Linked DNA regions of Homo sapiens. The protein of the gene in region 7 interacts with the protein of the main gene of each other region in a pairwise test. Each region holds a gene or a part of one and is shown on either strand. Other genes may lie near its edges. The genes, in order: SMAD6, CSE1L, DNAJC28, FOXO3, DPPA4, ACTR1B and MAPK6.

Region 1 (3,500 bases), about 15 Mb from region 7:
ACATTCCTTTTTAACACTCCAATTGTTGTTTCTGCTCAAGTGAACATCTTGGCTTAAAAAGGGGGAAAATGTACAGCTCCTCTCAACAAAGACTTCATGCCCAACCTATTTGTCATACTACTAATTAATACACTCTAAAGGAGAATAACCCAAGGCTGGGGGGCCCAAGAGAGAGGAAAGAGACACAGAAATGCCAACCCACCTCCGGTGAGATGCATAAGTCAAAACCCATTCATCTTCGACAGGCCCATGTTTAAAAAGGTCACAGAGAGGTTAATGATGAGCCGCGGAATTTCGAGATGTAAATAGCCTGCTGCAGAAGCTGGGTCTGCTTTGGCCCAACTGTGGGAGTGTTTGTACAACTTCACCCCATTTCACAGCAACCAGTCCGGCTTTCACCCCTCCCCTCCAGCCCTCCAGCCCTCCAGCCCTGAGGCTGGACAGACACTGGGCTGAAGAGGACCCAGTTCGGGACACACCTCTGCAAGGGTAGGAAGGAGGGCACACTTACCCAGTGGCTTGTACTCGTCGCGAGGAGACAGCCGAGAGTAGGGAGGTGGCGGAGATTCTGGAAGACAGGAGACAGCATGTCACTGCCAGGGTTGGGGAGCTCACACCTCAGGTTCTACATGCTTTTAATTACTGGTTTCCCAAATAATAAACTCAGCCTCCAGGAAGCCCTCCCTTTGTCCCACCTCCTCTGCTGCCCAAATCCCCTCAACAGTTAAAGCCGCAGGCTTGGGGCACAGACAGATATGGGCTCAATCCCAGCTCTGCCACCTTTGGCTGTGTGACCTCAAGCAACTTACTTCACCTCTCTGAGCCTGTTTCCTCAGCTCTAAAATGAGGATAATAATCATCTAGACCTCCCAGGTTTGCTGGGATAATGTATGTAAAATGCTTAGTGCAGCTCTTGGCCCTGTCCAAAAACACCTCCATAAACAGTAACTGTTACTACTTTAACAAGAGAAACGTGAGTGCAGGGAAAGTCAGAGCCAGGGTTGCTGGATAAAATACCGGATGCTCAGTTACATTTGAGTTTTGGATAAACATGGCATCATTTTGTAGTATAAGTGTGTCCCTTTCAATATTGGGGGTGTACTTATACTAAAATATGGTGTGTTGTTTATCTGATACTCGAATTTAACTGGGCATCCTGCATTTTATTTGCTAAATTTGGCAAGCCTAGTGTGAGTGCAAAGGCCCAGACACAGAAACTCGTGTCCAAACAAGCTGCATTAGAGCTAGCATTCCTAGGTGCAGGGGAGGACAGTAGAAAGGGTTAGGACCCAAAAGGCCAAACCCAGCTATCTCAATAGGCCTTAAGCCAGTCACTTCCAGCTGTTGGCCTCAGTCTCCCCTTTTGTAAAGGACAGGGGTGGAACACAAGCTCTCTACAGCTCAGATGCTATGATTCCTTATTGTCTATGATATTTTTCTTTGGGTTTCATTTGCCTAAAATACTTCTCCTTAAAAACATATACTTTGCTTTCAGAAGAATTCCTTAGCTTCTTGCTTTATGGGAAGTAACAATTTGCTAAACTAAGTAACAATTTGCATGAATGAAATGACCCTTCATTTTCGGTAAATGAAACTAAACACAATCAAATCGCAAACTAAAACAAACTCTCAGTGGTAATAACTATTATTAAGCGGGTATCAGTAATGACACAAGGGGTAATAAGTGTTTTTCACAATTGTAATAAGCCACAATTAGTTACAGGAGCATTTGTTTTGCTCCATACACCCAATGAGGCCTCACCTCTTCCCCACCCCGGCTTTTCCAGCTCAAAGTTACTTCCAACAAAGTCAAAGCTCTGAGGTTTAGAAACAGAGACTTTCTGTGGACAGAAATTAGGGAGAAGGAAAAGTGAATCACAGAGTAGCCACTGAGAGAGACGCGAACATTTGCTCGGTGTCTACGTTGTGTCTCACTCCATGCCAATCACTTTCAATTTTACTATTTTAGACCTCAGGTACAGAGTAGTTAATTATGCTCATCAGGCACCTATTTTTATTTAATCCTTTCTCAAAATACAAAAATTAAATGAGATGACATTATTATCCCCATTTTACAGATGAGAAAACTGACTTGCGCATGTTCCCCGAGCCAGTCATGGTGGAGCTGGGATTCCAGTCCAGGCCTGACTCTGCTCTGCCACCCAATAAGGTGGAATCAAGAGATGCCCTGTCTTACACCCCTTCATCCCCGCTGGGTCTGGGACACCACCTGCACAGAACGCGCTCACTAAATGTGGACACAGACAACTGGGATGAGGATAATGGTAAAGTTGAATGCATCTGTGGCCAAAGATGTGCAGAAAGAGGATCTAGGGGGCTCTCAGGCCTAGAGGCCAGCCTTGAGTGAGGACCAGCCTCTCAGGATAAGAGGCAGGGCATAGGAAGGGCTGGAGTTCCACAGGAAAAGAGAATTGAGGCCAGTGTTTCCACTGTACAGAGAAGGAGACTGTGGCCTGGTGAGTGGAAGTGACTCCCTCAGGAGCTAGGTATCGAGCCAGAACCAAAGCCAGGTCTCTGACCTCCATGCCCTTTCCACCACCCCCATGAACTTATCAGAAAGCCTGCAATTCCTTAGGGTTACTTTTGCAAAAATCTGACTGGCTGAGGTCTAGGCCACACATGGCATGGAGCTCTGAACATCTGCCCCCAAGATTTGTCCCCAAAGGTGAATCTTGACAACTATGGGCAGTAGTGGCTGGAGTCAAGCCTCTGTAACCAATGCCAGCATCTCTTCCAGGGGCTGCTTACCTGGGACTCAAAAGGTGGAAGGCAGGAAAGGCTCATGAAGTCCCACCTGGAAGAGCTACCTGGGCCTTGAGTTGTGACACCTGCTACCCATGGCCATAGCTGAGTTGGGAGTTCCAATGTTGTGAGATAGAAAGAAAATCTATGAACCTGAACCATGAGACATGCCAGCTAGTGGAGCACTACAAACCGTTCAGGAGGGACCTCACCAGGCTCCCATTAGCTCTGGCAAAATAGTATGCACACAACTGTTTAACAACTGCAGGGACTGAAAGCTAATCACTAAATTCCATTGTAGGCAACTAAAAAAGTATGAAGGCTTTAGACTCCACCCCACAACACAAGGATTTAGAGTGTCAAAGACAGAAGAGGCCTTGGGGTTCACCCAACTCAATTCCTTCTTTTCACTGATATGAAACTAAGGTCCCACTTGCTGAAGGACCTGCCCAAGGCCACACATGAAGGTAGCTGCAGGTGTTACAGGGGAGGCCAGTTACAGACCAATATCAGGTGACCCTTTCCAAAAATTGAGATATAATTCACATACCCTAAGATTCATCCTTTTTAAAAATATACCATTCAGTGGTTTTTGAGTATATTCACAGTGTTGTGCAACCATCAACCACCATCTAAACACAAGACATTTTTTTTATCGCAAAAAGAAACACCATCCCCATTGGCAGTCACTTTCTAGACCCCAACCCCAAAACCCTGGGCAACCACTAACTTACTTT
Region 2 (3,665 bases), on a different chromosome or scaffold from region 7:
ATGTCAATAAAATGTTCCTCATCAGGAATGGTATCATCTTCGGGTAACTCAAAAAGACCAATCAAAGACTGTAATAATGGAGTCCTGGATTGGAAGAAAGCAAGAGATAAAAAGGTCAAGAAAATACTCGGAAGACTTAAAACCAGCAATTGCTCAGAGACACAAAATTACAGACTCATAGTCTCAAGAATAAAAGGGGACCTTTGAAATTAAGATGGTTCTTTTCTTGGCTTATTCAGTTCTTCCCCTTAAAGATAAGTCAGTTTAGTTGGGCTTCTGTCATAAAATTGTCTTAGAGATCACCTAGATCAGACTCTTAAAGGGGTCCATGAATCCCCCTGAAAAAGAAGCAGGAAACAAGATCATTCTAAGCCCAGAAGGATCCAGAAATCATGTCTTGGATCTGATTGTGGAGAAGCTGAGATCAGACCAAGATTCTCTTGGCCCCCAAGAGAATAAGCTTTGTTAATTTTGCAGTCATATGGGAAGGAAGCTGTAACTTACAAAAATATTAAAATGAAGTACTTACCACAGTTTGGTATACTCAGTGTCCATCATTGGGGGACATTCTGTTAGTAATTTGGTTATGCCAACCGCACAGATCTTTTTCTCTACATTTCCAGATACCTTCTGAATTTCAGGAATAATAATTTTTTCCAAAACCATTCCAAACATTCTATTAAAGCAAAATAAATCAACTTAATATTAGATTATCACTATAATGAAATAGTAAAATGCTTAGATGTTAGTTACTTCTTATGAATATGATAAATTACTAAATAACAAGACTGCTGTTTTTGATCATCTGAAGAGACTGAAAGTCAAAACATAAAAAAACCCCATCACACCTCTACCCTGTAGCCAAATGCCATAATCTTTTTCTTTTCTTTTTTTTTTTGAGACGGAGTTTCGCTCTTGTTGCCCAGGCTGGAGTGGAACGGTGTGATCTCAGCTCACTACAACCTCCACCTCCTGGGTTCAAGCAATTTGCCTGCCTCAGCCCCCTGAGTAGGTGGGATTACAGGTGCCCACCACCACGCCCGGCAAATTTTTGTATTTTTAGTAGAGATGGGGTTTCATTGTGTTGGCCAGGCTGATCTCGAACTCCTGACCTCAGGTGATCCACCTGCCTCAGCCTCCCAAAGTGCTAGGATTACAGGCGTGAGCCACCATTCCTGGCCCTCTCTGCTTTTTTCTTTAAAAATTACACCTGGCCAGTCTCAAAAAAAAAAAAGAAAAAAAAAAAAAAAAGAGAGAGGAGCAAGGAGGGAAAAAAGGAATCATCCCACCACCCAGAAACAACTAGTTTTAACATTTTTGGGTTATAAGCTTCCCAACTGTCTTTGCTTACATACCTGCAGGTACATAAATGCTAATGGCTATTTAAAATAATTCGGCCAATCATTCTATGTTGTTGCAAACATGCTAGAAGTGAAGTTTTCCGTAATTCTAAATGATGCAAAATCCTCAGTTTATGCGTTAATAGAACCAATTCTTTGAAGTGGAAATATGGCTCAAAGGGTATGGCAATTCTAATGCTCTGGATAAAAAGTGCATACATTTTGCTCTCTAGAAAGATCAGGCTAATTCAGGCTCCCACTAGCAGTGCATGAGATTTCCTCAAAATCCCCTACTGCCGGAAGCCATGTTTTCTGGTCTCCTTTCCAGAGTAATTCATTTTTTAGTCAATGTAGAATTTTTGAGACATAACTGAGGTACAGGGATCTAACTGTCCCCGAAGAAATTTTCCCTAAGAGTTGTTCTTTATCTTATCGTTATAATTGTTTTATTCCCTACTAATGGGAAATGCCACCTAAATACATTCTTTGCATATATACCAGATAAGTCAAAAACAAAGTTAATTTATTGGTCCTAAGTATTTCTCATTTGAAAAATTCTGCTGTGTTTGCATTAGCAGCACATATACTAAAATTGGAACGATATGGATTAGCACGATTTTTTAAAAAAGGGGGAAGGAAAATTCTGGTTTTTTTTTTTAATTATACTTTAAGTTCTAGGGTACATGTGCACAACGTGCAGGTTTGTTACATATGTATACATGTGCCAAGTTGGTTTACTGCACCCATTAACTCGTCATTTACATTAGGTATTTCTGCTAATGCTATCCCTCCCTCTGCCCTCCCTTCCCCTGCCCCCCATCCCACGACAGGCCCCAGAGTGTGATGTTCCCCGCCCTGTGTCCAAGTGTTCTCATTGTTCAATTCCCACCTATGAGTGAGAACATGTGGTGTTTTCTGCTGTTAGTTTTAATAAGGCAGGCTCCTGGAGACAACACTGACCATTTAACATAATATAGAACACTGGCTGTGGAGAATGCCAGTGTGTAGAGTAGATGGTCCTCTAATCTAGAGGATTAGAACAATGATTCCAGGGTGTTTTTTCTTTTTTTGAGATGGAGTCTCACTATATTGCCCAGGCTGGTCTCAAACTCCTGAGCTAAATCCGCCCTCCTCAGCCTCTCAGAGTGTGGGATTACGGGCGTGAGCCACCATGCTGGGCCAGGATTACTTTTTCTTTACTCCCAATACCTAAGAATATTTTGAAAACCATAGACACTATCTCCATACCAAGAACCACATCATCATCTATAAGACAGAGATACTGATTTGTACTAAAAAAAAAGTCAAAACATTTTCTTCCTTTAAAAAATAATAAAAACAAACTTACTTTGGTTGTATACCATCAAATATTTCTTGTAGTGCTAGTGCCCCATATTTTATGCAATACAAATTAATAAAGACTAAAAAACCTGTTGAAAGAAGATGCAGAATATCAGCATAGAGAACTCACGCACTAAACTGGTAACTGATAAGTCTGCAAAATAAACCTATGCTTAATCATTAACATCCAAAGGCTGTGGCATCAATACCTGCCTTCTAGTAAATAGAAAACTTGTCTTTCTGTCATAGACCTTTACATGCTGTCTCTCTTTGATTTATATTTCCTTATAATATTCTCTCTACTGAAAAAATGTTTTGGTATCCAACCATAAACCAACCTCTGGAACACAATATGACTAACACTAACTTAATGTTTGGAGAACACAAACATCTTAAAATATTTTCTTTTTTCTTGTGAGAAGGTTTCACTCTATCACCTAGGCTGGGTGCAGGAGCGTGATCACAGCTCACGCAGCCTTAACTTCCCAGGGTCAAGTGATCCTCCCACCTCAGCCTCCTGAGTAGCTGGGGCTACAGGCACACACCACCATGCTTGGCTGTTTTGTAGAGACAGGGTCTTACCATGTTGCCCAGGCTGGTCGTTAACTCCTGGACTCAAGGAATACTCCCACTTTCACCTCCCAAAGTGCTGGGATTACAGATGAGAGCCACTGCACCAGGCCCTTACAATATTTTCTTTTTTTTTTTTGAGACAGGGTCTCACTCTGTCACCTAGGATGGAGTGCAGTGGGTGTAATCTTGGCTCACTGCAGCCTCAACCTCTGGGACTTAGGTGATGCTCCTACTTCAGCCTCCCAAGCAGCTGCGACTACAGGCACATGCCACCATGCCTGGCTAATTTTGTTGTACTTTTCGTAGGGACAGGGTTTCGCCATGTTGCCCAGGCTGGTCTTGAACTCCTGAGCTCAAGCGATCGGCCTCCCTTGGCCACCCAAAGTGCTGCGATTACAGGCATGAACCTCC
Region 3 (4,854 bases), on a different chromosome or scaffold from region 7:
CTGTCACCTGGGCTGGAGTGCAGTGGCGCAATCTCAGCTCACTGCAACCTCCACCTCCAGGGTTCAAACGATTCTCCTGCCTCAGCCTCCCGAGTAGCTGGGATTACAGGCATGCGCCACCACGCCCATCTAATTTTTTGTATTTTTAGAGAGATGGGGGTTTTCCGTGTTGGTCAGGCTGGTCTCAAACTCCCGACCTCAGGTTATCCACCTGCCTCAGCCTCCCAAAGTGCTGAGATTACAGGCGTGAGCACTGCGTCTGGCCTTATTTTTCTTTTTAAAAATTTTTTAGTGGCCAGGTCTTTTTTTTTTTAGACGGAGTCTGGCTCTGTCGCCCAGGCTGGAGTGCAGTGGCACGATCTAGGCTCACTGCAAGCTCCGCCTCCCGGGTTCACGCCATTCTCCTGCCTCAGACTCCCGAGCAGGTGGGACTACAGGCGCCCGCCACCACACCTGGCTAATTTTTTGTATTTTTAGTAGAGACGGGGTTTCACCGTGTTAGCCAGGATGGTCTCGATCTCCTGACCTCGTGATCCGCCCGCCTCGGCCTCCCAAAGTGCTGGGATTACAGGCGTGAGCACCGCGCCCGGCCAGAAATCCTATTTTCTTTCACATGAGTTATTTTGTTGATTGTTTGCTTATAACTAAAGCCCTCAGAATCAGAGTTTATACTGTATCTTTTTCTGTGTTCCTACATAGATGGCAATAAATGATTCTAATGTTTATGATGTAGAAGCTGAGGAGGCTAATACCTATTTCTGGCTCCTTTTAGGAGACACAGTCATAACAAAAAATATTGCTTAATGTGCGAGGCACAGTGCCAAGTGGTTTACATACATTGTGTAATTCTCCCCCTAAAAAAGTCAATGAAGTTGATACAATTATTATTTCATTATATGTAAAATAGGGAAAATAACAGCATTTATCTCAGAGGGCTGTTGTAAAGATTAAATGAATGCCTGTAATCCCAGCACTTTGAAAGGCCGAGGCAGGCAGATCACCTTAGCTCAGGGGTTCGAGACCAGCCTGGCCAACATGGTGAAACCTGGTCTCCACTAAAAATACAAAAAAATTAGCTGGGCATGGTGGTGCGCGCCTGTAATTCCAGCTACTCGGGAGGCTGAGGCAGGAGAATAGCTTAAACCCGGGAGGTGGAGGTTGCAGCGAGCCGAGATCGCGCCACCACACTCCAGCCTGGGCGACAGAGCGAGACTCTGTCTCAAAAAAAAAAAAAAAAAAGTAAATGAGAATATACATAAAGCACTTAGCACAATGGCATACTATTTACTATAGTTTACTATTTATTGCAACTCTCATTTTGCAGGTATCTTGCCTAAGGTGCAAGCAGAAGAAACAGGATTTTCAACCCAGATCTGAAAACTCCCAAGCCTCTGCCTTTTTCTTTTTATCCTTTTTCTTTTTCCTTGTTAAAAAACTTGCTTCCTGTACAGAGAGGGGAAATGCTCAGTCCCCACGTCAGTGGTTGAACTCCAAGCCAGAAGATCCCTATTTTGATTTTGTCCTCTGGCCTGTCGCCAGCCCCTCAACAGTACTTGAATTAATAAAAGGGCAGGTTTTAAGCCTCATGTATCTGCGCAGGTGACTCCTTCTGTGACCCCGAATAAACCTGTTCCGGTCCCGTTCCGGGGAAACAGCCTTGCCTTCCCCTGCCCCCAGAAAGTTACCCTCGCCCTCCGAGCCACAACTCCCCACGCCGCCAACTCGGTCTTTACATCATTTTCGACGCCCCCTAAGTCCCTCCCGAGAGGCGCAGGCGCACATCGCCCCTTCTAGCGAACTACATCTCCCACAATCCCAATCGGCCGGACCACCTCCGCTCGGGGCGGGGACGGAGGTGGAGCTGGTGGTCCCCGGTCGGGACGAAGGCTCCCGAGGTGCCCTGCCTGGGTCCTCCGGGGTAAAGTTCGTTTGGCGGAAGATTGTCCGTTTTCCTGGTAAGGTCACCTGTCCCAATCAGGTACGATTCTGCCTTCCGTACCCCCGAGCCCCTCAGTGTAAAGTGGCAAATGGTCTAGCCCGGCGGAGGCACCAGCTGGAGGCGGTGGGAGGGACACCCGCAGTGAAGGGCGGACCGCGCACGCATGCGCAGAGGCGCGGCAGGGGGGCGGGAGCCGCGGAACCCCTACCCCAGGTCTGCGCAGGTGAGGAGGGGGCGGGGCAGGACCGACCTCCCTTGCCATGATAACCACCTTCGCAGCCGGCTCCCAGACCGTTGGCACCGATTGCCTAGAAAATAGGGGGTCTCAGGAGCTCCGTTTTAGCGTTTATATATCCCAATTCCAATTAAGCCACTTCCAGTATTTTTTGGCCATTGTCAGTGTACAAGTCTTCCTCCTCTTCGAGACCATGTTATTGCAATAGCAGCAAACGTGTTGGGAGGCCTCACAATTCATCATGGTTTTTCTGGCCTCTGGCAGATAGCTCCTTCCTAGCGAGCTGTGGAGCTTAAAGTCTTTTGGACACTTGATTCTATTCAATCCAGTATCAGACCAGGTACGTACCTTGTCCATAAGTCGTCTTATGAGAAGACTTCTTGAGATGATGCAGACTCTCGTGCAGTTTATAATCGGCTGGAGGTATAGACAGTTAAGCAAGCCTCCTTTTTTACTGTGCCCACCCCTAACCATTTTGCTTACACCTTGTTATGGGACTTGGTTAAATTGCTTAACCTTCCGGACCTACGTTTTCTCATTAAATGAGAAGATTGGATTAGATGATCTCTAAGAACTTTCCACTTGTAAAATATACGGTTAGTTAGTGAGGGGTAGAATCCAGATTCTATCTATCTATATTTTTTTGAGACAGAGTCTCACTCTGTTGCCCAGGCTGGAGTGCAGTGGCACGATCTCGGTTCACTGCAACCTCCACCTCCCGGGTTCAAGCGATTCTCTTGCCTCAGCCTCCCGAGTAGCTGGGACTGCAACCTCCAGTTAATTTTTGTATTTTTAGTAGAGACAGGGTTTTGCCATGTTAGCCAGGCTGATCTCGAACTCCTGACCTCAGGTGATCCACCCACCTCGGCCTCCTAAAGTACTGGGATTACAGGCGTGTGCCACCGTGCCTGGCCCCACAATATGTTAACACTAAACTTCATCAGCTTCCACTTTTCTGCCCACATCAGTGAAATATAGCTATAAGAATGCAGCTGGTGGGGCTGGGTGCGGTGGCTCACGCCTGTAATCCCAGCACTTTGGGAGGTCGAGGCGGGCAGATCACAGGGTCAGGAGATCGAGACCATCCTGGCTAACACGGTGAAACGCCGTCTCTACTAAAAATACAAAAATTAGCCAGGAGTGGTGTCGTGCACCTGTAATCCCAGCTACTTGGGAGGCTGAGGCAGGAGAATCGCTTGAACCCGGGAGGCAGAGGTTGCAGTGAGCCGAGATCATGCCATTGCACTCCAGCCTGGGTGAGACTCTGTCTCAAAAAAAAAAAAAAGAAAAGAAAAGAAAAGAAAAAAGAATGTGGCTGGGCACAGTGGCTCACCCCTATAATCCCAGCACTTTGGGAGGCAGAAACTGGCAGATCGTTTGAGCTCAGGAGTTGGAGACCAGGGTGGGCAACATGACGAAACCCCATCCCTACAAAAATACAGAAATTAGCCAGGTGTGGTGGTGCACGCCTGTAGTCCTAGCAACATGAGAGGCAGAGGTGGGAGGATCACTTCAGCCCAGGAGGTTGATGCTGCAGTGAGCCACGATTGTGCCACTGCACTCCAGCATGGGCAACAGAGCAAGACCCTGTCTCAGACAAAAAAAAAAAAAAAAAAGGCTGAGCGCAGTGGCTCATACCTGTAATCCCAGCACTTTGGGAGGCCGAGGCGGGCAGATAACCATGTCAGGATATCCAGACCAGCCTGGGCGATATGGTGAAACCCCTTCTCTACTAAAAATACAAAAAAATTAGCTAGGCGTGGCTCTGGAGGTGGAGGCACCACTGCACTCCAGCCTGGGTGACAGAGCGAGACTCTGTCTCAAAAAAAAAAAAAAAAGGAAAAAGTTGACAGCAGCATTCAAAAGAACTGCCCCTTGTTGTACTTATAAATTCATGCTGTATCTTTTACCTTATTGCTGAAAATAAGAAATTAACTGATAATACAACTTTGTTCAACCTATATTTGTTGTCGTTTTATAGGTCATTGCTAGGAAGAACTCTGGGTACAATAATGAATACAATGTATGTGATGATGGCTCAGATCTTAAGATCTCACCTGATAAAGGCTACAGTGATTCCTAATCGAGTGAAAATGCTTCCATATTTTGGTATCATTAGAAATAGAATGATGTCAACCCATAAATCCAAAAAGAAGATCAGAGAATATTATAGACTGCTGAACGTGGAGGAAGGATGCTCTGCAGATGAAGTCAGGGAATCTTTTCATAAGCTTGCCAAGCAATATCATCCTGACAGTGGCTCTAATACTGCTGATTCTGCAACATTTATAAGGATTGAAAAAGCTTATAGAAAGGTGCTCTCCCATGTGATAGAACAAACAAATGCCAGTCAGAGTAAAGGTGAAGAAGAAGAAGATGTAGAAAAATTCAAATATAAAACACCCCAACACCGACATTATTTAAGTTTTGAAGGTATTGGTTTTGGGACTCCAACTCAACGAGAGAAGCATTATAGGCAATTTAGGGCAGACCGTGCTGCTGAACAAGTGATGGAATATCAAAAGCAGAAACTACAAAGCCAGTATTTTCCTGATAGTGTAATTGTTAAAAATATAAGACAGAGCAAACAGCAAAAGATAACGCAAGCTATAGAACGTTTAGTGGAGGACCTCATTCAAGAATCCATGGCAAAAGGAGACTTTGACAATCTCAGTGGGAA
Region 4 (4,096 bases), on a different chromosome or scaffold from region 7:
TCTGAATTTTTAAAATGTGTTTCAGCAATCATATTGCAGAGGAAGCAATAAAGGAAACCAAGCTCAGATTCATTCACAGTTAATGGGGTACACTGAGCCTGGCAGCCAGTTCTCATGCCAGGACAGTGAAGGCTTGTGATAAAGCTCTTTCCTAGCTTTGGTAACAGGTATCAGGTTCTGGAGCCCTGGAGAGAACAGCAGATCCCAAGAGCGCATGTCATGTTTTCAACATTAGGTACTCTTCTAATTTCTCATCAAAAAGTAGGCGGCTCCCTAGAGCAGCTTATTTAGAGGCCAAGGGTGGCCTCGGATAGTTCTCATCATAAATCAAACATTACAGCTGCCAGGCCCCTTGAGGCTAAGCATTCTGCTGATATGCTCCAGATCAGAAAATTATTGTTAGGGACCTGTGACACTCACTCAGAATGTGACATGGTGGCCAACGGCTGGCCTGTCCTGAAAGCAGGGTCTCAACATAAGGGGCAGAGGGCTCTGGCAGCACCCCTGCCCACTTCAGAACCAGGCTAGTCTCTGGGGCCCTGGCCTCTCTGCAGGTGGCTGAGGGTGAGGGTGCCGGGACCCTAGACAGGCTTCACTACCAGATTCTCGGCTGACCCTCTCCAGGGGCTGGTGGGTCTCGCAGTACTGATGCTGCACTTGACTTTACCCTGGTCTCAGCTCTCCACAACACTCTACATGTAGATGCTGTTTTAGTTACTTGAAAAAGAAAAAACAAAACAAAACAAAAAACCAAAGCATTCCCTCTTCATTCTCCTGATCTGTTTTGTGCTGCCTTGCCCTTGTACCTTCTCTGTCCCTTCCTCAGCTGTTTCAGATTAAATGATAATCTGGTTCTAGGACATTCTGTAAGACATTCTGCCTGAAATTCAACAAACGCTAGAAAAGGAGAATAAATGAGATACCATGTCTGAAAAGAATTCAACATTTTAAAGTTGAAACACATTGGAGGGTTGCCTTTCTCACTCCCAAAGCAGCTCCCAGGGTCTGTAAAACTGCAAAGGTAAGTAGCTATTTTGTTAGTCACTTTGCATGTTTCTCTGAACTCAGAAGTTCTCAGGACCCTAATGCTGGAAGCACTCTGGAATTCTCCTATCCCCCCACCCTTTTACATCTCGCTCCCCACTCTAGCCCCCATGCTACTAGTGCCTCTGCAATGCATCCCCACACAGGGCAGCATCCCTTAGGAAGCTTGGAGAGGCAACCCTCCTTCACTGCTACTGGAAAGTTCTTGCATACAGCACATTACTAAAGAATCCAGGAAGTGGCTAGCATTATTATAAAGGAATATAGTAAGCAAGTCTGGCTCACTGACAAGCAGACCATATGAATAGAATACATACTTAAAAAAATTACACATACTTTAAAAATGAAGATTATAAACATGTAGCAGTTTAGAAAAGGCAATGTGCTACAGTCTACTATAACCACAATTGCACAACAATTTACAGATTCAGTAAAAGGCAGGGTGAAATCAACAGGGCCATCGCTCAAACATGGCAACCCAAGCGAGGCAGGAGACGTGTGACAATACCAAATGGAACTCTCATTATGCTAGGAGCTGTGATCACCACCAATATCACCCCCAGAGGAGTTATAAAGCCAAGGCGCACAAGGGGGCCCCTGGTGGCCGGTGGTGTGTGCAGGGGGTTGGGTGGCACGTCTGTGTTGGTGCCCACTGTCACGGTGCAAGCATCAGCAAGAACTCAAGCAGGGAAGTCTGTGCTGAAATACTAGCCTGTATTCCTAAGGCCCATGCATAAGGTTCCATTTTTGTACTGTACATGATAAAATATATTTATACATTTATATGCCTAATGCTTTTTATGCAAAGAAAAGAGTCTTCATATATCACTTTGGAGAAGTATGCATATACTGTGCTAATCAGAGCATCGTTATACCAATTTCTTATGTACCAAAGGTGGTCCCAACTATTCCGTCTACCAAAGAAGGTAACGAATATAATCACACTTTCCAGGTTAAACAGAAAGCACCTATACAGCACCATAACTTTTTGAAAACACAACAAAATGAAATCCATAGAAGCAGAAAAAAAAGTTAAAACTGCCCTATTTTGTACTTCCATTGAGTCACTTGTACAATTACAACCTAAGCTTATATTTAAAAAATCAGTTTGTATGCTATTGCCTCTCACTCATACACTTCTAGCAGATCAGATTATATAGCAAGGCTGAAAATAATCAAGGATGTGTATTTAGGAAAACAGTGAAGTTAGAACTGCCTCAGCATTGACTTGGGTTTTTACTCTTCGCACATTTCTCACTGCAAGCTTAATGCTCACCTGTAAGTTCATTTGTTCTGCAAAGCAAAACAGGACTTTTTTGTTTTTTTTTTTTTTCCTTTTCTTTCTCCTTAAAACTAAACCCTTTAGTGACATTTGGCAATGAGTGGAGAGCTGAGCTGATTTCTTTCCTGAAAATATCAATATTCTAGTTTCTAACCAGCAGACCAACACTGTTCACATTAGCTGAGGACACTGACAGGAAATCACAGGCCCTACTGATCTGGCACCCGTAGACTTGGTGCTGGGGTCCCGTCCACAGATCACCCTGACTCAGAACCGGAAACACACTGGGCCGGACGCTGTGCTCCACTCCTTTTGCCTATGCACGGTTCTGTCCTGGACGGGTGCACATAGCAAACAATTGTGCCATTGTTCAGTTTTTAGAAAAGGATAATTTTCTACCAAACAAAAGAAGAAAGAAAATCCCCCTTTAGTTTATGTAATTTGTTAGTTTATGGAGTTCCATGCGCTCAAAAGCTTGTGATGCTCGAACCCGGAATGGTAACTGGTACAACATTTTCTTTCTGTTTTTAAATTTGCTAGGGGAAGGACGGTTAACATTTTAACAGAAAAATACCGCAAGTTAATGCATGTGAAAAACTCAGAAAGTCAAAGGAAAACAAACACAAGAACAACACTTAAAACGTCCCATAAACCATCGCAATATTAAAACACCACAGAATGGCCGACGGGGGCTCACGGTGTGCTCTGAATGAGGGTGGGTGGTGCTGAGGGGTGCTGTCCTCCACTGGCAGGCGGCTCACCACCCTGTACAAGGAAGATTTTGCATACTTTTTAGAGTTCTGTTCCAAGGGTAAGTGCTTCACCCAGGGTAAGGGGCCATTAACAGTCTCTGCTGGGTTAGGAAAATGGCGTGGGATTCACAAAGGTGTTAAGCTGTAAACGGTATCACTGTCCACTTGCTGAGAGCAGATTTGGCAAAGGGTTTTCTCTGTAGGTCTTGTGTCAGTTTGAGGGTCTAAAGGAGGAGAAAAGAAAACCAGAGATCATTAAGGGCACTGCAACAGCAATAGTGGGCACCTGAGGGCCACCTGTCAAGGCCTTCCATCTCCCTCACCCACCTCAGAGCCCAGGGCTAGCACAGCAAAGCTGCTCTGCTACACCAGTTTCAAAGGTCTGAAATCCTAAGGACAAAGCACAAAGATTACTTACCTTATTTCTCATGTTGTCCTTATTACAAAATGCTCTGAAGTTGAAAAGCCCAAAGGGAATGGGATCATTCACTTTGGGAGATAAAGAAAGCCATATTAGGGGTGTTTTGGTGGGTCCTTTTTAGTTAGATGTTCAAGGTGCAGATAAGATTCTGTTCTAGACTTCCGGACTGAGGGATTTCCTAGGACATGGGACTTTCCATGCTAAAACAAGGAGAGCCGCTCATCCTAAGTAGATGAGTTATACTTTTCTGGTTCTTCCCTACTGGCTATGTGGACTAACTGAATTGCTTACCACCCTTTTCCACGAATACCCCAACACCAGTGGAGATGAAATGGCCACTTTCTATAAAGGCCTTAATAAGTCTGCAGTGCTGGGTGTGGGTAATCTTGACTCCCCTATTCCCCACCATAAAAAGAGTAAGTAATTACTAAGCGGGCCATCTTAAGAATTTAAGAAATGGGCCGGGCGCAGTGGCTCACGCCTGTAATCCCAGCACTTTCGAAGGCTGAGGAGGGCAGATCACGAGGTCAGGAGATCGAGACCATCCTGGCTAACATGGTGAAACCCCGTCTCTACTAAAAATACAAAAAATTAGCC
Region 5 (4,096 bases), on a different chromosome or scaffold from region 7:
TGTTCCTCCACCCCTAGTTCTAAGAAAGAACAATATTTCCCATCTCTACTTCTCTTTTTTTTCTTTCTTTCTTTCTTTTTTTTTTTTTTTTTTTTTTTTGAGACAGAGTCTTGCACTGTCACCCAGGCTGGAGTGCAGTGGCACCATCTCGGCTCACTGCAACCTTCACTTCCCGGGTTCAAGCAATTCTCCTGCCTCAGCCTCCAGAGTAGCTCGGATTACAGGCGCCTGCCTCAGGTGATCCACCCACTTCGGCCTCCCAAAGTGCTGGGATTACAGGCGTGAACCACTGTGCCTGGCCAGCAATTTTCTTTTTTTCTATTTTTTTCTTTTCATTTCTTTTCTTTTCTTTTCTTTCTTTTTTTTTTTTTTTTTTTTTTTTGAGACAGAGTCTCCCTCTGTCACTTAGGCTGCAGTTCAGGCTGCAACCTCTGCCTCCCTGGTTCAAGTGATGCCCCTGTCTCAGCCCCTGGAGTAGCTGAGATTACAAGCATGAGCCACCATGCCTGGATAATTTTTGTATTTTTAGTAGAGACGGGATTTCACCATGTTGGCCAGGCTGGTCTCGAACTCCTGACCTCAAGTGTTTCACCCACCTTGGCCTCCCAAAGTGCTGGGATTACAGACCTGAGCCACTGGGTGGCCAACTGAGCAATTTTCAAGAAGACAGTACATTGTTATTAACTATGTATAGTTACCAACTTGTACAATAGATCTCTTGAACCTAGTCCTCCTAAGTGAAACTTTGTATTTGATCAAGAGCTCCTTAGGCCATTTTTGTTAGAATTTTAATCTGTATTTTTATCTTTATTATTTAACCCTTTTTGTAGGATTTTCCTAGCACAGCAAAAGAGGCCAAAATCCGGAAATCATTGCAAAAAAAATTAAAGGTGGAAAAGGGGGAAACGTCCCTGCAAAGTTCTGAGACACATCCTCCTGAAGTGGCTCTTCCTCCTGTGGGGGAGCCGCCTGCCCTGGAAAATTCCACTGCTCTCCTTGAGGGAGTTAATACAGTTGTGGTGACAACTTCTGCCCCAGAGGCTTTGCTGGCCTCCTGGGCGAGAATTTCAGCCAGGGCGAGGACACCAGAGGCAGTGGAATCTCCACAAGAGGCCTCTGGTAAGCGCAACATGAAGAGCTTATTCTGGTCCAATGGGGAAATAAGCTTAGTAGATATTAATCACTGGTACATTTTAGGGTATATCAAAATCCCTTTGAGGGCCGGTGATTCCTGGACCCTGCCCACAGAGTTTCTGGTGCAGGTCTAGGGCAGGACCTGAGCATTTATTTGCATTTCTTTTTTTTTTTTCCTTTTTTTTTTTTTTTTTTTTTTTTTTTTTTTGAGACAGTTTCTCCCTTGTTGCCCAGGCTAGAGTGCAGTGGCGCGATCTCAGCTCACCGCAACCTCCACCTCCCAGGTTCAAGCAATTCTCCTGCCTCAGCCTTCCTGAGTAGCTGGGATTACAGGCATGTGCCACCATGCCCGGCTAATGTTGTCTTTTTAGTAGAGATGGGGTTTCTCCATGTTGGTCAGGCTGGTCTCGAACTCCCGACCTCAGATGATCCTCCCACCTTGGCCTCCCAAAGTGCTGGGATTACAGGCGTGAGCCACCGTACCTGGCAAGAGTTTGCATCTCTAACAGTTTCCCAGGCAGTACTAAGGATGCTGGTCTGGGGACCACAGTTTGAGAACCACTGCTCTAAATTATTGATGGCATCAGAAGGGGATAGCAGTCTGGTTTTCTTTCTTTACCCTTTAAGCAATTTAAATTAAAGGCAAGGTCTAAAATTAATTGCCTGCAACTGAGCCCCAGAATGGCATTAATAAGTTATTTAAAATATTTCCCAGCGTTTTCATTGTAAAATGGGTAATACCTACCTTATATGTTGGAAGAATTACAGAAAGTACAACAAAAGAAGACAAACTGCTTAGCATAATCCAATGTGTGTTAAGAGCTGAGACCCCTGAGCTTATTTCATGAAGCCCTTTCCAGACACTCTGGGTTAGTCTTTCTACCATCTGCCCACCTACAACTATACTACTTCCAACTAGATTTTTAAGTTTTAACAGGAACTGTCTTGTATGCTTTTTGTTTTGTTTTGCTTTTGATATGGAGTCTCGCTCTGTCACCCAGGCTGGAGTGCAGTGGTGCAATCTTGGCTCACTGCAAGCACCGCCTCCCGGGTTCACGCCATTCTCCTGCCTCAGCCTCCTGAGTAGCTGGGACTACAGGCCCCCGCCACCACGCCTGGCTAATTTTTTGTATTTTTAGTAGAAACGGGGTTTCACTGTGTTAGCCAGGATGGTCTCGATCTCCTGACCTCGTGATCCACCCGCCTCGGCCTCCCAAAGTGCTGGGATTACAAGCGTGAGCCACTGCGCCCAGCTTGTATGCTTTTCTAAAGGAGAACAGAATAGAGAAGAGGTTAAGTTAGGATTTCAGGGTTCACATCTTGGAGCTGGTCAATCAAGGGTGATGGGCCATAATGCAGTCTTACATCAGTATGTCATCCTGGTGTGCGGGTACCTGTCTCTTTCCTTTGCCATTGCCAGGTGTCAGGTGGTGTGTGGTCCATGGGAAAAGTCTCCCTGCAGACACAGATGGTTGGGTTCACCTGCAGTTTCATGCTGGTCAAGCCTGGGTTCCAGAAAAGCAAGAAGGGAGAGTGAGTGCACTCTTCTTGCTTCCTGCCTCCAATTTTCCACCCCCGCACCTTGAAGACAATATGTTGTGCCCCAAATGTGTTCACAGGTAATTACCTGATGCTTTTCTACAAACTAAAAGTGGGTGCCGGATTTTCAATTGCAGAAAGTTAAGATATACATTAATCTTAAATAGCCAGGTATTTCAAGCTCAAATTGTCAGTAAAGAGTTTCAAGAAAATTATTACTCAGTTAAGTTTATCCCCAGGAAAAAGAAAGCATTTATGTGTCAGGGTTTAATGCTTCTACCTGGAGACACAGAATTCTGGGAGCAACAAACATTATATAATTACTATATTCAAAGTGTATGCTCTACACAGAAATAATGACTAGCAAAAAACCTCTTCCTTTAAGTAGCCTACAGTCTTAACAGGGATGGTGGGCATGTAAACACCTAGAATAACATGATGAATATCAAAGAAGAGGTTCCTTAAGTTAAGGGAAGAATCGACTAGATGGAAAGGAGAGATCGGTAATTTCTCAGCCTGGGAAACGTAGCAAGACCATCTCCCACAGGAGGAAGTATGTGAATGTGTGATTGGCTTTTCCTTCTTTGGGATATCCTACTTTTTGCTGTGAGTGTTTTGATAATCTCTCTATGCCAAGCAAGTTGAAGAGAACTGAGGAGGTCACTTTGGGTAGTCCTTTAATGACATACTTAGGTTTTTGGGAAAGTGATGAAAAGAGCCCCTCCAAGGCCTCCTGTCCATGGTTGGCACAAGTCAGGGAATATATTACAGAGGCATGATAACTTGGCTGATGATCTTCATTCTTGAATGACAGGATCACAGGCTTGCTACCTATGATCCTAAAGTTGTAAGGGCAATTTCAACAGCATTCCAGCAGCGGGTTTCTTGGCTATTTTTAATATTTCTTCATTCTTTTTAAAAACAAATACTTTATTTGCTTTATAGGAACAAGGTCTTAATAAAAAGCCTCCAATGGGAATAGAATATCAGGAAAAAGGCCACATCTATGGTAATTAATGGCAGAAAAGCTGGAGAGTTGGATTCTGCGGTGCTGCTGACAGGTGAACTCTGGTCCTCTGCACCTGTTTATGGGCCATGCAGACTGGTGGGGTGGCAGATGTTAGCCTAAGACCCCTAGCAGTGCCTGTTGCTTTGTGAGTGGAGATAGAGACTCTTACATTTAAAAATGGAAAAACATTTCACAAATTACCATAAATTGTAGTTAATATGTAGAAAAACTCATTCATACTACTTTTCTAAAATAGACATGACTTCAGCAGCAGCTTTTTTTTGTTGTATTTTGAGACAGTGTCTCACTGTTGCCCAGGCTGGAGTGCAGTGGTGCAATCTCAGTTCAGTGCAATCTCCGCCTCCTGGGTTCAAATGATTCTCCTGCCTCAGCCTCCTGAGTAGCTAGGTACAG
Region 6 (3,399 bases), on a different chromosome or scaffold from region 7:
GGAGGGTGCCCTAATATGGAGTTCTCCGTGCAAATTCTGCTTTCCCTTTGAGGGCCAGTGCAAGCATAACTGCCTTGTGACCACAAAGCCTCACAAAACGCCTTGGCAGACAGGCCTCAGTACTCTCCTCACTCCTACCTCATCTCCTCAGTCCTGGGGCTGCCCTCACCCCCCACAAACCCCAACTGCCTACAACACACTGCTCTGGTCACCATCTTTCTATGGCTGGCCACCCATCTCCCAGGACACAGCTAACAATCCTCCATGTGCCAGCTCAACCCACCTTTTTTGTTCATCTCACACAATGACCACAGACCACTGACCTTTCCCTGCTGACTGGGCATTGGGTCCCTGCCTTCCTCTCCAGACCCACTGGTCCCAGGTGCTTCTTTGGGCTCTCACATCTGCATAGAATGCCTTCCCCATCCCTGGATAACCTCTGGATCCTTGCAAGTCGGCCTGCCCCACCTGTCGGGCCAGATGACTAACGCCTCGGCCCCCACAACTCTGTACTAAAATGGCTCATCTGTCTTTCTCCCTTGACGTGTGTATTTGTTAGGGCAAGGATATAACTTGTTGACCATTGGCCCCAAACACACGGCACCATCCTGGAAACACTGTAGGTTCTCAAACACTTAAGAAAGTAAAGAGCAGACATTCTCCAAACCCTAATTCCTCACTGCTCTTCTGCCTATTCCTCTAGGGCCTGGCTAAGCTCACAGCCTCTCTGCCTCTCCCTGCCTTCCCCATCCTGACTTGTCTGAAGGCGTGAGCTTGCATCATTGCTGGTGTCCACCAGCCTTAGCCCTGGCTGAATGGGGTGAGCAGAGGTGCTCAAATAGGCCTGTCCAGGGTCCGGGGGCAAAGAAGGTAGCCTGGTTCTACTTCCCCTGGTGGACTGCAGCAGGGGAGGTAACAGGCGAGGGAATTATGCTACAGGGTGAGAGCCCAGCCTCCTGAGGCTTTTTGTGCCACGTTGGCGGGCCAACCACTGAAACCTTCATGCCGCTAAGCTAGAGCCAGTGCCTTGCTGCATTCTCTCTGGTCCTTTCTCTGAAAGTCCCCAGGGATGGAAGAACAAACGATAGCACAGAGAGCCACAAGAAAACAGAGCCACACACTGGGCCTTGTCCATAATTATTACTATAATGATTTACAAAAGTTTTTTTCAGGCAACCGTGTTAAATTATTGTACATATCTGAGAGAGGGAGGTGGGGCCCTGGCCACAGCAAAAGTGACGACCTCTTTCTTGGGTGAGGTAAGAAAATGTCCCCCACCCCCTTTTAGGTCTGACTCCTTATTAAGTGGCTTCCCCTCAATAAATGATGAGCATCAACCCTTTCCCACCCAGGGTGCCGAGGGTAGAGGGAGGAGCAAGTGGATGAAGTGCTCTGAAAAGGATAGTGCAGCGGCTCTAGCCACCGTGCATCCTCTGCCCTGGCTCTGAAGGGCCTGACCCTGGGCTGCACCCCCTTGCTGGGGATGGAAGACCATTCAGTACTCAGCCCTACACCAGGGCATCTACCCAGGAAGATAGGAGGACAGAGTGTGAAAGGGGCTGTGTCACCCTGTCAGGTCACGAACAGGAGGTGGCAATGGATGCAGTGACACACCAGTGGGAGCTGCTGGCTGCCCCTTGCAGCCCACTCCCCAAACTGGCTACCCAGGCATCCAGGCATTCTGGCCCTGGAGCTCAGGGAGGCAGCCCTGAGAGTCGGAGCAGGGAACCACAGGCCTAGCTGGCCCTGCCAGGGGGATACCCACAACAGCCTGACATGGCGCTCAATTCCCACACGCCAGCTCAAGGCTCCTGTCCATGCAGCTCAATGTTACTTGTGTGTGCATGTCCTGTGTAGAGGGGAAGGCTGCAGGGGGGCACTGCTGTGCCACCCACCCAGGGGTTCAGGGCATGCAGGGGACCCTAAGCCTAGTATACGAGCCAAGACCAAAAAGGGTTAAAGGCTCTGTCTCCCCTCCCTCCCCCTCTCCCAACATGCCCCGCCCTCCTTGGGCACTAGAAAGTTTTGCGATGAATAGCACGGGAGCCATCCTCTTCATACTCCTTTTTGGACACCCACATCTTCTTAAAAGTGTCCAGCGAGGCCAGGATGGAGCCGCTGTGGGGATGGAGGGATAGTATTGCTGTGGACCTGTCAGGGAGCCAACCACCTTCCTGGGTGCTCAGAGTTGCATTTCCCTAATTTGGGAGGGAAATCCACCCACCTCCACGTGGCCTAGGCCAACAATGGGAGGAGCATCCAGGGTAAAGTGGTCTCCTCCCAGAGCCCTCCCTTGAGCCCCGCCTCACCCAATCCATGTGGAGTACAGCCGTTCCTGCGGGGCTGAGATCTAGAAGGAGGAAGTGGCCACGTTAACTGTGGATCCCCACCCAGAAGCCATCCTCCCAGCCTTGGGGTCACCTTCCCCAGGTCCTGAAGCCTGACAGCAAAGGCATAAGCTGGGGAGTGGCAGCAGCAGCCTTGGGAAGAACAGGACTAGGTGGACGTGAGCTGGTGAGCGGGTCTGGGGGCAGCATTCAACCTTCCTCCCCATGCCAAGGCTGCCAGCGCCCTAGTGCCCCAGGGGGAGTTTCTGTAACCTCACCTTGATTTTGATATCCTTTGGGGCAAGCTTCTTCACTTCACTGAGTAATCGGTCTCCGAAGCCTGTGAACACAAAGCTGGCTGAGCCTGGGGTCTGCACCCGGCCTCCTCGCTGCTAGCTCCCGCACCCAGCCTTCAGGGCCCCCAGCTACTGCTGGTCCTCTATCAGCAGCTCTTCCCAGGATGAAGGGCAAGGCTGAGAAATGATCCAGCCCCATGGCTGCCTGCGGGCCCTGCGTCCTCACAGAGGCAGCGTGAGATGAAGCCGCACATGCTCCTTGCTCGACTCTCACAATACACTTTAGAGCTTGTGTAAACTTCTCCTCTATTCACAGAGTAAACAAAATTTAATTTTAAATTTTGGTCTGTTAAAAAAAATGTTCATTGAGCACCACCAAAAAGCCAACAGAATATGGCTCTGGGTAGGGGTATACTCTCTGAGGGTCCAGCTGCCCTGGGCCTCGTCTCACCACCACCAACTCTCAAGCCACAGTACCTTTGAAAAGCGTTGAGCCACCTGAGAGCACGATGTTGGCGAACAGCGTCCGGCGCAGGTCCATGTCGGACTTGTGTATGGCGAAGGCCACCACCTCATGGAGCCCCTCACTCTCATCCCCGACAAGGTCCGGCTGGAACAGCAGCTCGGGGGCCCGGAATCGTGCAGGCCCCACCTTTAGTGTACAAGATTGAGGCAGACAGGCTTCCTGGAGAAGCGGGCTACCCCTTCCCCCAGGCTGGGCATCGGCTGCCACTCCAGTGCCAGGCCCGGCCACTTACATCAAGCGTGCTGCCGTC
Region 7 (4,096 bases):
CTTTTTCCTGTTTTTCTTGGCTTACTGACTTTGATATCAAACTTTTCAATTCTAGTTGGGACACTGAGCTATTCAAGTCATTTAATTTATCAACAACATCAGTAGGCTCATGCTGGGAACTAAGCTGAATAGTTCCTGCAATAAAGGAATCAAAATCAAATCCCTGATTCTTTTCCCTTTCTTTTCCAGCCAGTTGCTGTGATGCTTCCTCTAGCGCTATCTGGGCTTTAACCAATCCATTCCTTTCACATTTTGATTTGCCTTTCTTATCAGATTTTTCTTTGCTTTGTTCTTTCCAATTGGAAAGATCTATAATAAGCTTGGGTTCATAGTAATGGTTAACTTCACTCTCTCTCCAAACTAAGTTATCTAAATATGATGATGACCTCGTTTTGTAGTTACAAGTATGGCTACACTCCAGATCACAATATTTGTTTTCATGATGATCTGAGTATTGCCAACAAGGCTCAGTAGAGTAATTGGTATCAAAAGCAGGATCCTCCAGATACTTTTCCCGATCTCCATCCAAATATTTTCGGGGATCAACTTGTACTTCTTCTTCATCAGTGACATCGGACAGAGCTCTTGGATCAAGCTGAACTTCATCAATATCAAAGTTGTTATGTACAGGCCAATCATGCTCTGAAAACTGACAATCATGATACCTGAAAAAAATCAATACACTAGCGTTATTCTACGTATATGATTTCATTTTCAAATTCACCGAGTACCTTCTATGTGACAGCACTGTGCTAGGTCTATGAGGGGATAATTATAGGAGAGTAAATATGCCTGCCTTGCCCTACCAGAACTTAGTCTTGATAGGAAAGCTCTGTTAATATATTTGGTAATTGCCAATGCAGTATGTAACTTCATTTCCAATTTGTTTTTTGTCCACCAGTTCCATGCAAACAAAAGACTTCATAGCCACAAAATGCAGATCTCAAATCTCAATCAGGTACCTTACAAATGTTTACTCTACAGTAAGGGCAACTAGAAGAGGAGGAGGTTTGCTAAATGTTTACTCTACAGTAAGGGCAACTAGAAGAGGAGGAGGTTTGCTGGAAAACTCATCACCATGAATAGCAAAAATCTCCCTGTGTATACGTGCTGCTGAATGCGCTATCCTATTACTGACATGTATAATCATTGAGGGAAAAGAAAAGAGATTAGATAACTTAGCTAGGTAAAATAGAAAATGCAGGTCAGGTGCAGTGGCTCAGGCCTGCAATGCTAGCACTTCAAGAAGGCCAAGGTGGATGGATCACTTGAGGTCAGGAGTTTGAAACCAGCCTGGCCAACATGGTGAAACCCCCACTACTAAAAATACAAAAATTAGCTGAACATGGTGGCGGGTGCCTATAGTCCCAGCTAGTAGGGAGGCTGAGGCAGGAGAACTGCTTGAACTCAGGAGGTTGCAGTGAGCAGAGAGATGGGCACCATTGCACTCCAGCCTGGCAACAGAGTGAGACTCCGTCTCAAAAAAGAAAAGAACCATTATTTAGGGGGTAGAAATGGACACATGGAGAAAAAAAGTAGTTTGCAGATTTGTGTAAACATACCATACCAATACATCAACATTTGAGGAGGGGGAAAAAAATTTCTTCTTAAAATCTTAAGATTAAAAAGATTGGCATTAGTGGTTCCCAAACTTGGCCATACATCAAAATCACCTGATGACTCTATAAGCTACCATCCTACTCTGAAGCATCAAAATCACCTGATGACTCTATAAGCTACCATCCTACTCTGAAGCAGAATTATATCTAAACTTCCCCAGAAATGTATTTATTTATTTATTTGAAACGGAGTCTTGCTCTGTCGCCCAGGCTGGAGTGCAGTGGTGCAATCTCGGCTCACTGCAACTGCTGCCTCCCAGGTTCAAGTGATTCTCCTGCCTCAGCCTCCTGAGTAGCTGGGACTACAAGAGCCCGCCATCAAGCCTGGCTTATGTTTGTATTTTTAGTAGAGACCGGGTTTCACCACGTTAGCCAGGCTGGTCTCGAACTCCTGACCACAGGTAATTGGCCTGCCTCAGCCTCGCAAAGTGCTGGGATTACAGGCATGAGCCACCGCGCCCAGCCAAACTTTCCTAGAAATCCAATTATTTCACTTTATGAAACATCAAAATATGGATAACATTATACACTAATGTTTAGACCTAAAAAAGTCTCTTTTACTGAACCTATGTTAAGTGTCCCCAAATTAATTGTGTCATTAGGAAAACAGATTCAAATACTGGCTGAGTACGGTGGTTCACGCCTATAATTTCAGCACTGTGGGAGGCCAAGGCAGGCAGATCACCTGAGGTCAGGAGTTCGAGACCAGCCTGGCCAACATAAAATCCCACCTCTACTAAAAATTAGCTGGGTACCTGTAATCCCAGCTACTCGGGAGGCTGAGGCAGGACAGTGAGCTGAGCTTGCATCACTGCACTCCAGCCTGCACTCTAGCCTGGGTGACAGAGTGAGATTCCATCTCAAAAAAAAAAAAAAAAAATCCTGCATCTAATATGAATCAAATACTTTTTATGTTAAGATATAACTACCACTGAGACACTGGAGATACTTTATTGGATATGACTGAGTCTTGTCATCTAACATCTTAAATTTTTGACATTCATAAAATCACAGTTAAAGGACTTTATAAATATGCCTTAATGACTTTGAAAATGTTTCAAAGTAGCATTTAACTTTTCCCATATATCATCTAACCAGTAATTACTTTATTAAATGTTTTAATTAACGGCTATTTATAGATATAAATATTAAGGACCATTACTAAATTTTTCTTTGAGATGGAGTCTTGCTCTATTGCCCAGACTGGAATGCAGTGGCATAATCTCGGCAGCCTCGGCCACTTGGGTTCAAGTGATTTTCCTGCCTCAGCCTCCAAGTAGCTAGGACTACAGGCGCCTGCCACCACACCTGACTAATTTTTGTATCTTTACATTACTAAATTTTTAAGACTTCTACAATGTCTTATACATAATTTTAAAAAAACTCACTACATATGGTCCACTGAAAGTTCAGTAAATATTATTTTTCTAATTTAGGATCAATTTACCTTTCCCAGTTATAAATGTGACTGTGAGTTTCATCCATAAGCAAAATATCATCAACTTCATCTTCAATATGAAAAGGATGGCTTGAAATTGGCTCATCCATTGGAAAAGAATATATGCTCATGTAAGGATGGGAGAGTGCTTCTTCTGCTGTTAACCGATCCATGGGGCTAAATGTCAAAATTTGTTCCAGGAAATCCAGTGCTGCAGAGGAAAAGGTAAAAGTTTTTCAGAAAAGAATTGCTTACCTTTAGAAAAACAGTAAATGTTGATCTCATTTATTTCAATGACTAGCTAAGTGATTACCTTAGCACTACATACTACACAACAGGAAATGAGCATCTTAATTGTACTAATAGGTCCCCATCTTATAAAAGGGAAAAATGGACTACACAATTAAAAAGTTAATTTGTCAGAAATAAAACTTACCTGATTTACAACTTAAAAACGATTTTCTGGCTGAGTGTGGTGGCTCACGCCTGTAATCCCGGCCTAATATATAGGTTTTAATCCTAGCTCTGCAAGTCACTGGCTTAACTCAATTACTAGCACTGTAGTGCTGGATAGGCTACTAAAACTTGATGAACATCAGTTTCTTCATGCATAAAGTAGACATAGATATTTCATAAGGTACAAAAATGAGATGTAATCATAGTGTCTGGTATGTAATAAAAGCCCTTTCCCATCCTTCACTGATGGGAAGTACAACAGTAAAACATCTCTGTTGTACTAATTTCTTGATCTCTGCTTCACATCACACTCCAGCATAGTTCACACACTGACCTTGCACATCTTAGGACTCTGGTTAACCACAAATCCAGTTCTTCCCATAAAATAGTCTAGTAGGCCTTCCTTAGTTCCTCACGCAGCCTGAAAGCTATATTTACACCAGCCACACACTTCTATGCCTTATGATATCAACCTTCAACCCTGGATCACCACCACCATCTACTCTCTCTGCTCCCTGGCCACACAAAACTGATGAAAACTAGCTGCAATATCCCATATCTGGCTCATTACAAATTCATACTA

The links.
Region 1: the proteins of MAPK6 (region 7) and SMAD6 interact in a two-hybrid assay, tested with the Homo sapiens proteins (one large-scale study listed by BioGRID and IntAct).
Region 2: the proteins of MAPK6 (region 7) and CSE1L interact in a two-hybrid assay, tested with the Homo sapiens proteins (one large-scale study listed by BioGRID and IntAct).
Region 3: the proteins of MAPK6 (region 7) and DNAJC28 interact in a two-hybrid assay, tested with the Homo sapiens proteins (one large-scale study listed by BioGRID and IntAct).
Region 4: the proteins of MAPK6 (region 7) and FOXO3 interact in a two-hybrid assay, tested with the Homo sapiens proteins (one large-scale study listed by BioGRID and IntAct).
Region 5: the proteins of MAPK6 (region 7) and DPPA4 interact in a two-hybrid assay, tested with the Homo sapiens proteins (one large-scale study listed by BioGRID and IntAct).
Region 6: the proteins of MAPK6 (region 7) and ACTR1B interact in a two-hybrid assay, tested with the Homo sapiens proteins (one large-scale study listed by BioGRID and IntAct).

The regions. Positions count from the first base shown.
Region 1 is NC_000015.10:66,708,736-66,712,235, reverse strand, and holds part of SMAD6 (mothers against decapentaplegic homolog 6), read right to left. Parts: coding exon of another isoform or gene 3,498-3,500; intron 1,842-3,497; exon of another isoform or gene 1,763-1,841; intron 569-1,762; coding exon 512-568; intron 1-511. UniProt on the Homo sapiens protein: Transforming growth factor-beta superfamily receptors signaling occurs through the Smad family of intracellular mediators. SMAD6 is an inhibitory Smad (i-Smad) that negatively regulates signaling downstream of type I transforming growth factor-beta.
Region 2 is NC_000020.11:49,091,151-49,094,815, reverse strand, and holds part of CSE1L (exportin-2), read right to left. Parts: intron 2,771-3,665; coding exon 2,689-2,770; intron 677-2,688; coding exon 530-676; intron 85-529; coding exon 1-84. UniProt on the Homo sapiens protein: Export receptor for importin-alpha. Mediates importin-alpha re-export from the nucleus to the cytoplasm after import substrates (cargos) have been released into the nucleoplasm.
Region 3 is NC_000021.9:33,488,726-33,493,579, reverse strand, and holds the start of DNAJC28 (dnaJ homolog subfamily C member 28), read left to right. Parts: upstream 1-1,863; 5' UTR 1,864-1,978; intron 1,979-2,178; exon of another isoform or gene 2,179-2,514; intron 2,515-4,155; 5' UTR 4,156-4,186; coding exon 4,187-4,854.
Region 4 is NC_000006.12:108,679,033-108,683,128, reverse strand, and holds part of FOXO3 (forkhead box protein O3), read right to left. Parts: intron 3,303-4,096; coding exon of another isoform or gene 3,216-3,302; 3' UTR 1-3,215. UniProt on the Homo sapiens protein: Transcriptional activator that recognizes and binds to the DNA sequence 5'-[AG]TAAA[TC]A-3' and regulates different processes, such as apoptosis and autophagy.
Region 5 is NC_000003.12:109,327,547-109,331,642, reverse strand, and holds part of DPPA4 (developmental pluripotency-associated protein 4), read left to right. Parts: intron 1-830; coding exon 831-1,119; intron 1,120-2,554; coding exon 2,555-2,753; intron 2,754-3,618; coding exon 3,619-3,655; 3' UTR 3,656-4,096. UniProt on the Homo sapiens protein: May be involved in the maintenance of active epigenetic status of target genes. May inhibit differentiation of embryonic cells into a primitive ectoderm lineage.
Region 6 is NC_000002.12:97,654,843-97,658,241, forward strand, and holds the end of ACTR1B (beta-centractin), read right to left. Parts: coding exon 3,382-3,399; intron 3,276-3,381; coding exon 3,101-3,275; intron 2,668-3,100; coding exon 2,606-2,667; intron 2,351-2,605; coding exon 2,310-2,350; intron 2,119-2,309; coding exon 2,016-2,118; 3' UTR 1,097-2,015; downstream 1-1,096. UniProt on the Homo sapiens protein: Component of a multi-subunit complex involved in microtubule based vesicle motility. It is associated with the centrosome.
Region 7 is NC_000015.10:52,060,471-52,064,566, reverse strand, and holds part of MAPK6 (mitogen-activated protein kinase 6), read right to left. Parts: intron 3,269-4,096; coding exon 3,067-3,268; intron 666-3,066; coding exon 1-665. UniProt on the Homo sapiens protein: Atypical MAPK protein. Phosphorylates microtubule-associated protein 2 (MAP2) and MAPKAPK5.